Homo sapiens: one gene and its partners. The protein of the gene in region 3 purifies or fractionates together with the protein of the main gene of each other region. This does not show direct contact. Each region holds a gene or a part of one and is shown on either strand. Other genes may lie near its edges. The genes, in order: CMBL, SRSF10 and ZNF514.

Evidence for each region.
Region 1: the proteins of ZNF514 (region 3) and CMBL purify together in Homo sapiens (affinity purification with mass spectrometry; one large-scale study listed by BioGRID and IntAct). This does not show direct contact.
Region 2: the proteins of ZNF514 (region 3) and SRSF10 purify together in Homo sapiens (affinity purification with mass spectrometry; one large-scale study listed by BioGRID and IntAct). This does not show direct contact.

What each region holds. Positions count from the first base shown.
Region 1 is NC_000005.10:10,276,964-10,280,516, reverse strand, and holds the end of CMBL (carboxymethylenebutenolidase homolog), read left to right. Parts: coding exon 1-64; 3' UTR 65-2,922; downstream 2,923-3,553. UniProt on the Homo sapiens protein: Cysteine hydrolase. Can convert the prodrug olmesartan medoxomil into its pharmacologically active metabolite olmerstatan, an angiotensin receptor blocker, in liver and intestine. May also activate beta-lactam antibiotics faropenem medoxomil and lenampicillin.
Region 2 is NC_000001.11:23,967,030-23,970,418, forward strand, and holds part of SRSF10 (serine/arginine-rich splicing factor 10), read right to left. Parts: 3' UTR 928-3,389; coding exon of another isoform or gene 897-927; 3' UTR 695-896; coding exon of another isoform or gene 634-694; 3' UTR 1-633. UniProt on the Homo sapiens protein: Splicing factor that in its dephosphorylated form acts as a general repressor of pre-mRNA splicing. Seems to interfere with the U1 snRNP 5'-splice recognition of SNRNP70. Required for splicing repression in M-phase cells and after heat shock.
Region 3 is NC_000002.12:95,156,972-95,161,151, forward strand, and holds the start of ZNF514 (zinc finger protein 514), read right to left. Parts: upstream 2,878-4,180; 5' UTR 2,269-2,877; exon of another isoform or gene 2,013-2,268; coding exon of another isoform or gene 1,889-2,012; intron 469-1,888; coding exon of another isoform or gene 380-468; intron 374-379; exon of another isoform or gene 1-373. UniProt on the Homo sapiens protein: May be involved in transcriptional regulation.

The DNA of each region.
Region 1 (3,553 bases), on a different chromosome or scaffold from region 3:
AGACAAGCCCTACATTGACGAGGCCAGAAGGAATTTAATTGAGTGGCTGAACAAGTACATGTAGCAAGAATCAAGGGCAAGCCTTCCTAGAATAGCTTTCATCCCAAAATTTGCTTGGAAATAGTTAGATCATTTGATTTAATTTTCACTTTTATAAAATAAGTGTAGGAATCCTAAAATTGATTATTTCATTTGAAACACAAATTCAGTAGGACGTAATGCATGAAATAATTTAATTTTTGACATGTACATCGAATCATAATTTAAAAACAAGGTCTGACCAGGTGTAGTGCCTCATGCCTGTAATTCCAGCACTTTGGGAGGCCAAAGTGGGTGGATCACCTGAGGTCAGGAGTTTGAGACCAGCCTGGCCAACATGGTGAGACCCCATCTCTACAAAAAATACAAAAATTAGCCTGGTGTGGTGGTGCACGCCTGTAGTCCCAGCTACTTGGGAGGCTGAGGCACAAGAATCAATAGAACCCAGGAGGTGGAGACTGCAGTGAGCCAAGATTGTGCCACTACTGTACTCTAGCCTGGGCAGCAGAGTGAGACCCTGTCTCAAAAATAAATAAGTAAATAAATAAATAAATAAAATAAAAACCAGGTCAGTACCTGGAGAATTTGAATGATAGAGAATGATAGAGTAATACCCTAATTATTAGTTAAAACCTACAGGCCGGGTGCGGTGGCTCACGCCTGTAATCCCAGCACTTTGGGAGGCCGAGGTGGGTGGATCACTTGAGGTCAGGAGTTCAAGACCAGCCTGGCCAACATGGTGAAACCCCATCTCTACTAAAAATATAAAAATCAGCCGGGCATGGTGGCATGTGCCTGTAATCCCAGCTACTCAGGAGTCTGAGGAGGAGAATCACTTGAACCTGGAGGCAGAGGTTGCAGTGAGTCGAGGTTGCGCTACTGCACTCCAGCCTGGACAACAGAGGGAGACTCTGTCTCAAAAAAAAAAAAAAACCTACAGCTGTTCAAGGACCAGCTGACAGGTCAAGTGTGGCCTTTTCTGGTCTTTGAACACATCATAGAAAGTGACAAATGCTGCAAAGCCATGAAGAACATGAACTATAAACGGGTAGACTAACTGCCCAGCTTAGACACTTATCTATGCCACAAAACAGCTGAATTTGTCACATTTATATATTGCAATATGGGAAGTATTGAGATCAAAACAGGATTCCATTGACCTAATTATATTAAGCTAATAAACTAATTTTTTGAATTTTTGAATTTGCAGCTTTTTTAAAAAGATAGCAGAGAACGGTGGGCTAGAGTTGTCACCCAGCTGTTGTCTCCTAAGCAGTGGATTTCCAAGCACTGGCATTTTTGGGTCCCAGGGCCTGAGGCTACCTCAGAAATATCTCCTGTGTTTCTGGTGGTGGCGTAAAGGGGAGAGCCGGTGAGAAACTCTGCACCTGCACCTACGGGGTGCGTACATGTGACTTTGGGCAAGTGACTTGATGTTGTAGTTTTTTTCCTAATTTTGTCTTGACGTCCTTCTCAGGAGAGAGTGGCTGTAAACTCTAGCCCTGCCCTGACGGGGATCCTGGGGATGTGGTCGTGGGTGTTTCCCATGTGCCTTTCATGGGATCCTTCTTTGACCTCACAGACGGCCTGATTCCTGAGTGTCCAACCTGTGGCCAGGTGTCCCTCTCGCAGGAAGCTTGTTTATCCTGGCACATGACCTTGTGGCTCTCATCTGACCTGTGTCCAGTTTATTCCTACTGAGACAGCCACTCTCCCGGAGAGCCCTGACCGGGAAAGAAGTTAGGATGGGGTAGAGGAGGCAACTCATCAGAACCCAAGAAATGACAGAAGCAGTTTATTGCTTACAGATCCAGAGAACAGAGGGCAGCACGCTTCACAGGGCCAGCAAAAAGGGGGAGCCATTCAGGACACATGGGCTCAACCAGAAGGTGGAGAACGAGAGAGAGAGGGAGCTATGAGCCAAAGCCTTCACTGGGGCCCAGGGTGTCATCTATGCAGGTTTCCCCTGGAGGTTCTAACTGGGGGGTTTAGAGCAAGCAGGCATGAGCCCCGGGGACTCACGCTGTGACTGAGAGGGGTCGGTGTGGGTAGGATATCGGCATGGTCCATGTGGGTGTGGGGGTCAGTGGGACAAGTCAAGCAGGTGGTATCCAGCTGTCCATGGGAAGGTGGTCCCAGGAGGCGGTTTTGTAAGGCAGATGTCTGGATCGACCACCTTGGGGAACAGTGAGAAGTTGTATAACTGGAAACTGTGTTACTAATCCCTGCTTCTAGTATGAGAAAGTCCAACTTACATTCAAATAGATGCTCAGGAAACATAAAATTCAAAGAATTCCCAAACTTGAGCTTCCTGAGCCTCAGTTTTTGCATCTGTCAAATGGGTATGGGGAGACCCTTTGCCTAATGTTGAGAGAATCCAAGCCTGAGCAGGGCTGGTCTACTGTGGACACTTAGTTGTGGACCCCAACAGGCCAAAGCCCTTGCCTGCTGAGGGCTGCTCCCAGGAGGCCTCACACATTCATCCGGCCTCCCAGGAAACCCCTGAGATGTGCTGGGCTTTTGCCGTGGAACGGTGTCGGTGAGCATGTGGCCAGTAGCCAGAGTCTTCAACATAGGTGGGAGGTCTGAAATTCGTGCGAGAATGAACCAAGGGTGTGGCTGTATCCTTCATGGTGAGCTTGGGGCCTGGGCAGCCTTCCCTCTGCTGAGTCCTTTGGTCAAATGTCATGGTGTTCTGAACCAGCACTGCAGATAGAAGTATAATGTAAGTCACACACGTACTTCTTTAAAAAGATATGTTCTTCAGTGACTATTAGACAAACAGATAAATGAAGGTAAAGGGAAAAAATGGCAACTTTAGCTTTTTTCCCCATGTATGTAATTTTAAATTTTCTTATAGCCCCATTAAAAAAAGGAAAGAGACACAAGTGAAATTAATTTTAATAATGCATTTTAGCCCAATTTATCACAAATGTTCCATCAGTGTGTAATCAATGTAACGAATCATGAGTGAGATATTTTGTATTTTTTTTTTTTTGTTCCTCTATCTTTGACATCTGGTGTGTATTTTCTGCTTACACATATCTCCATTTGGATGCTAACTTTTCATCAGAAGTACTTGATTTGGCCAGGCACAGTGGCTCATGCCTGTAATCCCAGCACTTTGGGAGTCTGAGGTGGACTGATCATTTGAGGTCAGAAGTTCAAGATCAGCCTGGCCAACATGGTGAAACCCCATCTCCACTAAAAATTCAAAAATTAGCTAGGCATGGTGGTGGGCACCTGTAATCCCAGCTACTTGGGAAGCTGAGGCAGGAGAATCACTTAAACCCGGAGGTGGAGGTTGCAGTGAGCTGAGATGGTGCCATTTTACTCCAGCCTGGGCCACAGAGCAAGACCATCTCAAAAAAAAAAAAAACAAAAAAAAGTACTTGATTTATGTTTAGATTTCACAAAATTTACAGTTGAGAAAAGTAGATTTACATATTTAAGTTTTCCGATAACTGAGTCTAGCATCAAAAGTCATTTCCTTTACAGTTCACCTCCCACATTG
Region 2 (3,389 bases), on a different chromosome or scaffold from region 3:
ACAGTAAGGGCTCAATAAATATTTGCTGAATATACTGACTAGGAAAGAGGTGAGAAGAGATGGGCCCTCTTAGCTGGATGTCAAATATAATTGGAATTTACCTGGGAAGGAGTAGTTAAGACAGATGTAAACTGCATGTGGTGTACAAGTAAATAAACACAGATGCCAACAAAGCAAATGATTAAGCAGAAAACACTGGCACCAAAATAAACAAAGGCAAGATTTGCCAATAATGGCAAAAATGGAACTTTTATATTGGACCATACCTTTTCCCACCCAATTCAGTTTGAGACAGACCAACAGAGGCACTGTAAGAGACTATGGCTGTCTTCCTTGATATTCAGACATCCTAGTTTCCAATAATTTATTATGGACCTGTTACCCATGAATCAATATAAACCTATTCATATTTAGGGATTAGTTTCCACAAGTACAAAGTTGAATTTCCTTTTATTTGTCCTAAAATGCTTACTTTCAAACTTGAAGGGACTTCAATTATTCCATGTAGTTTTCGATAACATTCTTTTATCTTTTCAGACCAGAGTCAAAATATTCGTACAGTATTCATACTGCAGCACCTTCCACCCACCCTTTGGTCGCTTGAACTGCCCTTCTTTGGTTCTTTTTCCGCTTTCAGATCTTTCTTGAAGTGTAGTAAGCAGAACTGTACTGGGTATTCCAGCTGCAGTTTGGTCTTAAATAAAAGAAGGATGTTTGTCAGTTTGGTTTCCTTTATTCTTCTCTGTGGTATACAGGATTTTGTTAGTTGAACTGGATGTAGCAGCTTACTGGGCCAAATTTTCAAGAGAATAATACAATAGTTCCCAGGTCTTTCCCCTGGGATGTAACTTAACAGCTCATACTCTATGTAGCACCTTTCCTCTCTCACTGAAGCATTATCTCTCATTTTTCTTCTTGCTTACTTGGCTTCAAAAAAAAAAAAAAAATGCAGAGAGATCTTAAGTAAAAGGAGAGGTGAAGTGTGTCAGCCCTCATTTGAGTGTTGATATAACCATTCTATTTATCATTGAGCCCAGTCATACACAGTAGGTAAACTCAGTAAGTGGGGGACTCAACTACATCACCCAAAACTAACATAAAACACTACGTAAAGATCCTCATCAAGTATCAGTAGGATCCAAACTACCATGGGTTCAACTGTAATATAGTCCTTTTGAAGCTGTTAGGTGTGTCGCTTTAGGAACAACATATAAGATTCTCAATAGTCCAAGTCTAAAAATAAGTTGACACAAGTAAAAATAAAAATGAAATTAGGCCTTCTAGTTCTATACAGAAAATGAACAATTTCAATGAGCTATCTCCTCAATCTACTTCTCTCAAATTATAGTCTGTAAAACAAACAAAACCCCCCCAAAACTAAGGGACCAGGCCTGGGCTTAAATCCTGGCTCTGCCTTACAGTCTTTTCTTTGTGCCTCAGTTTCCTTATCTGTGATATGGGGAAAATAAAAGTATCTTTCTCATAAGGTTTTGTGAAGAGTGAGTTAACACATAGCCTTTTCAAGTGTCTGGCACATCATGAATACTTAATAAATTAGCTATAATTGTCATAAAGTAGATAGAATTCAAACCACAAAATACCTAACCTACTTCCCCAAAGAGGTTATCACTTAATATTAGTTGCTCATCAACATTCAATTTAAAATGATTTAAAATCATGTCATAAACGTTAAGCCCTAATGCGTCTTGTTTATAAGAGGGAGAGCAGAATTACTGATCCATCCAATAATGAAAATATAAACTTGGAATTAGCTGATCCAAATTTCATCTTAACACTACCAAATAACCTCTTAAGTTAGTTAACCCAAGAGGCTTAATGAGCAATCATGAAACAACTTTGATATTACACAATGAATTTTTAACTACTGTGTAAAAGATGTACCTTTCTGGCAAGTTCTATCATTTCCAAAGTAAAAGTTAGTTGTGCCTAGTGCAACAATGATTTAAAATATTCCTAAATCTATAAAGGACTGTTTCCATTGTTATTTTAGAATCATATTCAATACTGTAATAATTCCAGTTAATCATTATTTCCTTCATTTTGTTTTTATTATAGCATGTTTGCTTAATTTACAGCAAGCAGAAAATAAGCTGGGTCTTGTTTTGATCCAAACATTGATGTTTTAAAGGTTGTACACAATATTTGTTAAAAAGAACATATAAAAATACCTTTTTAGAAGCCTCTATAAGAAAGAAAATACAAAGTTTAACCCCACAACTTTCCTCTTTGCTAGAACTGTAAACTACTGCTACAGTTTTAAATAGACTTTTTGTTGTTTAAACTATACATCCAGGAAAATCTAAAAAAATTAAAGAAACGTGCATATAAACGATTGCATAGCAGAACATGAACATTAACTGCAAACAGTAAAGAAATGAAAGTTAGAAATACTATCAAATATACAAAGGTTCTAGAATCAATCCTTTAAACACATTCCACAAACAGTATTTAAAATCCATCGTTGTATTCTTTACAGGCAAAGCCTAGATTACTAAAACCGAAATTGAAAAAAGTAATCCTCTAAAAGGAATCGTTTGTCCATAATTCGTACTTGTATCTGTAAGCAAGCAATCTGAGATTTTTAAAGATGCTAGCTTTTTATTCTGAAATGAAATTGGACATGTCAAGTCACTTTTGTCCCCAAAACGATCTTTCAGAGAAATACTAGAAATTATAAATGGTTTAAGGGTATTACTTCATTTTTAGTCAGGTACTACACTGATAATCGAAAGCTCAAAAGATGTGACTCTTGCTTAAAACTGACTAATCCTTTTCCCCAAATTACCTTAAATTTCATGGCACCACAGAATCACCTAGAATGAGTGTTGTCTTACAACTTGCCTCGTATTAAATAAACTGAGGTGTGAAAAGCAGGCCTCCCTCATAAAGAGGCAGGCAAATTTTGATACAAATGCACGAGCCAAGTGCTGTAAGCATCAAAATTTCAGTTCTTTTACACTAGGCACACACACACAAAACCTACTTTGAAACAATTTACTTACTTAACAGCAGTAAGAAAACTAAGCAATATTATGGTCAACAACGCTCCTTAAACTTTAGAATAACTACATAAGAATATTCCTTTTTCCTTAAAATTATTTTTGCCATCAACGACCTGCTCAAATTTTAAGGTGAGTTTTTGTGTTTTCTATGTTCCAAATCTTCATAGGAACCAGAAAAAAAGCAGTGAAGGCTCCATGTTTCAGTCAAAAACTCAATTTCCCAGCTGGCATCATTCCCCAAGACAGTGGGGTTAACAAAAGAACTAATCCACACTGCATCAAAAATAATTATCATTGGCCTAGACATCCGGTTTTTTTTTTTTTTTGAGACGGAGTCTCACTCTGTTGCCCAGGCTGGAGTGCAGT
Region 3 (4,180 bases):
GGCCTGTCTGTGCCACTCCATTTGGCATCAAACCATTCACATCCTGTTACTGGTGGCTGCGTCCTGGGTGTCAGGGTCCTCTTCCACTGTGGCTGTGACACTCTTTCAAGGCCAGGGCTGTCACATTACCTGGTGGTCACCACAGTGCCCTTTCTAGAAATATGTCAGAGTAAGCCCAAACGATCTGAGTGGGTGCACAGCAAGAAGAGAACACCCCGGACAGGTCAGGGAGCCATCATTCACTTGGATGGGCTCAGCCTCCTGCAGAGACAGCATTGGGTCAGTTCCCTTAGTGAAAAAAGAGGCTACTTTTTGGTGAAAAGTAGGCAAAGCTAACCATCGTTCAGGCATTTGAGGAAAAATTAAGAATACAACTCACCCGAGGCCTGGCTTTCAGGAATGAATTGGTTGTTCCCTCTTCTCCTGGGAATCTCTCTGGAGGAAGAGCAGGATTCTGAGAAGGGGAAGCTGGGAAGGTAGAAGGAGACATAAGGGAAGCTGACCCAGCCAGCACACACAGCTCTCAGACTTCCCAAGCCTGAGACCCAGAACAGCTCTGAATGTCACCTCCGTTGTTCTGAGGACACCAGTGGATCAAAAGGATCTGAGAGGCAGCTTCTAGCCTTCAAACATTGAGAGAAGTGCCCCTGTACACAGCTGCATGAGGCTCCCACCTGTCCACAGCCCACATCAGTCTACAAGTGAGTGAAGTGTGACCAGTCTGGCCATACCACTGAAGTTATTTACTGGGCATACTGTATGCAGGTCATCTCCTAGGACTTTTGGAAATATAAATATGGAAAAGAACTTCAAGGAACTTTAAATCTAGCCTACAGGTTAACAATTACACAAGACCCAAGGCAAGGCCATGCAGGATTATGAGGCTTTAAGGGGAGGAAGTTACACCTCTCCCCTCATCCTTGGGAACCCAGCTCAGAGGCCACCTCTTTCTGAGAAGCTGCCCCTGGTGTTCCCAAGCTCTGTTAGGTCTCTGCAACACACTTGAGAGCTCCTTCATTATAAAGCTTTGCATCATACTGTTCATAAAAGCCTTAAAACAAACAAAAAAACTAACCCAAACCATGCCAGAGAAGTAGTTAAGGCTAACAACATGGGTGTAAGCATAGCACAGTTAGGCATTCCTCAAGCTTCATGTGTGTGTGGATCCCTGAGGATCTTGTTAAACTCTGGCTCAAGACTTGCTAAGACACTGTTTGAGGATGTGTGGGGCCCCAGAGTCTGCAATTCTAGAGAACTTCTGGGCAATGCCTCTGCTGTTCCCAGAGCCACACTGATTAACAAGGGTATAAAGGAAAAAAGAGGGGGTGGGAAGCCCACGGACTGGGCCCAGTTCTTCCACTGGCCAGTTATGTGTCCTTGAGCATGTGCACTGAAGGATGAACAGTCGGATTAAAATGCCCACCTGGTTAGAGATAGGACGTTCTAAACTTAGGACTGGCTTAAAACCTCCTGGGTCACCTGGATTGCCCTGCCCCCAACGCTATTGGGGGAAGGGGCTCAGAGGAGATACCCACCATGTACACTGCTGACCTTATACACCGCTGAGCTAGAACGACTGGAAGAACCTTATTAGTGAGGTGATTAAGGAGGTGGATGACAAGGCTCCAAATGGCCCTATCGTCCTCTGATCCCTGGCCAAGGGCCACTCCCTCTTGGGTTTGCTTGCCCTCTCCCTGCCGCAGCAGGAAGAGATCAGATCCTCTTCTGCTCTCCTCTGGCCATTGGGACAATTTTCCATGGCCATCCCCTCCACCTCCGCCACGGTCATCTAGAGACCCCTGCCAGACCCAGGAGACTGCGGCTTCAGCCTTCTGGGTCTGGAAGGTTAGATGTCGCCACACGGAAGGCAGATGAAGTACAGCCTCACCCTTCAGTGGGATTCCCCGGCCTCTTCCTGGGGTCCTCCTGATATCGGGCTCGGTACTAGCTCCCCAAGAGGGCTCCTGGCCCTCTGCACGCTCCAGAGCCAAACCTGATGCTGTGGAGTCCATAGCTGGGGCTAAGGAGCGGCGTCCTTTCACTAGGTCCAAATCTCTGTCTTTCGGCCACAGCCCTGTGGTCCTCCCGAGGGTTCAGGGAGCGGGACGCAGGCTGGGGCTGCCTGGGGGACACGGGGCATCCCCACTAGGCGCGGCGGGGCCAGCGGACCTGCAGGGCCCAGAGCAGGGCCGGCAAACCCCGGTGCGCCCAGCGCGGCGCACTGCTGCCCGGGGTCGTGCTCTTCCCTCGCCAAGTCCGGCCTCCTACCCCCGGCTCGGCTCCTCCTCAGGACCAGGCTCTGGAACCCAGCTCCCACGTGGATCCACACGCACAGTGGGCTCAGACTACCAGGAGACACGGCCACAGCCACGCCCGCGACGCGAGGGCCCAGCGCTCTTCAGCTGCCCGGAAACAGCAGGGATTCGGTGAGAGCCTCACAGGAGCAGGGACCGACTCTATCAGCCCGGTTCGCCCCGCTGTCCCTGCCTAGCTCCGGCCTGCACAGTCCCTAGCGGGGGGCACTCGGAGGGACACACCCAGCTCTGTAAGGGGCCGGGGCGCGGGCCCAGTACAGGTCTGCGCGCCCGCAGTCTCCGAACGCTCACAGGACCAGGCCCCGCCCGCCACCCCGCGCCAGCCCCCGCCCGCCACCCCGCGCCAGCCCCCGCCCGCCACCCCGCGCCAGCCCCCGCCCGCCACCCCGCGCCAGCCCCCGCGTCCGCCCCGCGCCAGCCCCCGCGTCCGCCCCGCGCCAGCCCCCGCGTCCGCCCCGCGCCAGCCCCGCCTCCCGAGGCCGTCCCGAGCTTGCGCAGACGCGGCCGCCGCCGGGGCCCTTCAGAGCCAGCGCCGGTGGCGGGGTGCTGGCGCGGCGAAGCTGGAGAGGCGGGGCTCGCGGGCGCCTGTAGGACCTCCGCTGGGAGGGGCCGTGCTCGCCGGCCACGCGCCGGTTTTCACTCCGCTCTCCCCCAAGGGCAGGGACCTACAAGCATTTCCCTTCTCGCGCGTGACTTTGGTAGCTGAGCCTCATATCTCTCTCGTTTTTTGGGGGGAGGGGGGAGACAGCCTCACTCTGTCGCCCAGGTGGGAGTGCAGGGGCGCGCTCTCGGCTCACCGCAACCTGTCTTCTGGGTACAAGTAATTCTCGTGTCTCAGCCTCCGTAGGAGCTGGGATTACAGGTTCCCGCCACCACGCCCAGCTAATTTGTTGTATTTTTAGTGGAGACGGGGTTTCACTATGTTAGCCACGCTGGTCTCGAATTCTGACCTCAGATGATCCTCCCGCCTCAGCCTCCCAAAGTGCTGTGATTACAGGTGTGAGCCACCGCCCCCAACCTGCATATCTCGATGTAAGGCTATTCAACAGAAGCCGCGTTCCTACCCTGGATCTGCTGAGTGAGGATTTCCAGGAGGCTCTCCTGGCGTGCCTAGGGGATACTGGGGACTCAGTGCTAGATACTGCTTCTACAGGCTGCCCCGTGCCTCTTGCCTTTCTCCATCTGCCCCTGAATTCAGCGAAGGGTGCTGAAGAACAAAAGAGGACTTTGAACGCCCTCCTACTCCAGAAACAAATATCATTTAGGACCCAAAAGAAATGGAAAAACGGCCTGCTATGGTCTGAATGTATGTGTCCCCCTCAAATTCATATGTTGAAACCTAACTCCCAAGGTGATAGTATTAAGAAGTGGAGCCTTTGGAAGACTCTGCCCTCATGAATGAGATTAGTGCCCTTTAAAAACAGCCCTTAGACCGGTCGTGGTGGCTCACATCTGTAATCCCAGCACTTTGGGAGGCCAAGGCGGGCGGATCACTTGAGGTCAGAAGTTTGAGACCAGCCTGGCCAACATGGTGAAACCCTGTCTCTACCAAAAATATATTTAAAAATTAGCTGGGCGTGGTGGTGCACGCCTGTAATCCTAGCTACTCAGGAGGCTGAGACAGGAGAATTGCTTGAACCCGGGAGGCAGAGGTTGTGAGCCAAGATCGTGCCACTGCACTCCAGCCTGGGCGACAGAGCAAGACTCCGTCTCAAAAAATAAATTAAATAAATAAATAAAAATAAAAACGGGCCTTAAGCCCCCTTTGCTCCTCCTGCCATGTGAGGACACAGAAGGTGCCATCTATGAGAAACGTACCCTCACCAGCCCCTGAACTGGCTGGCACGTTGATATTGCATTTCCCA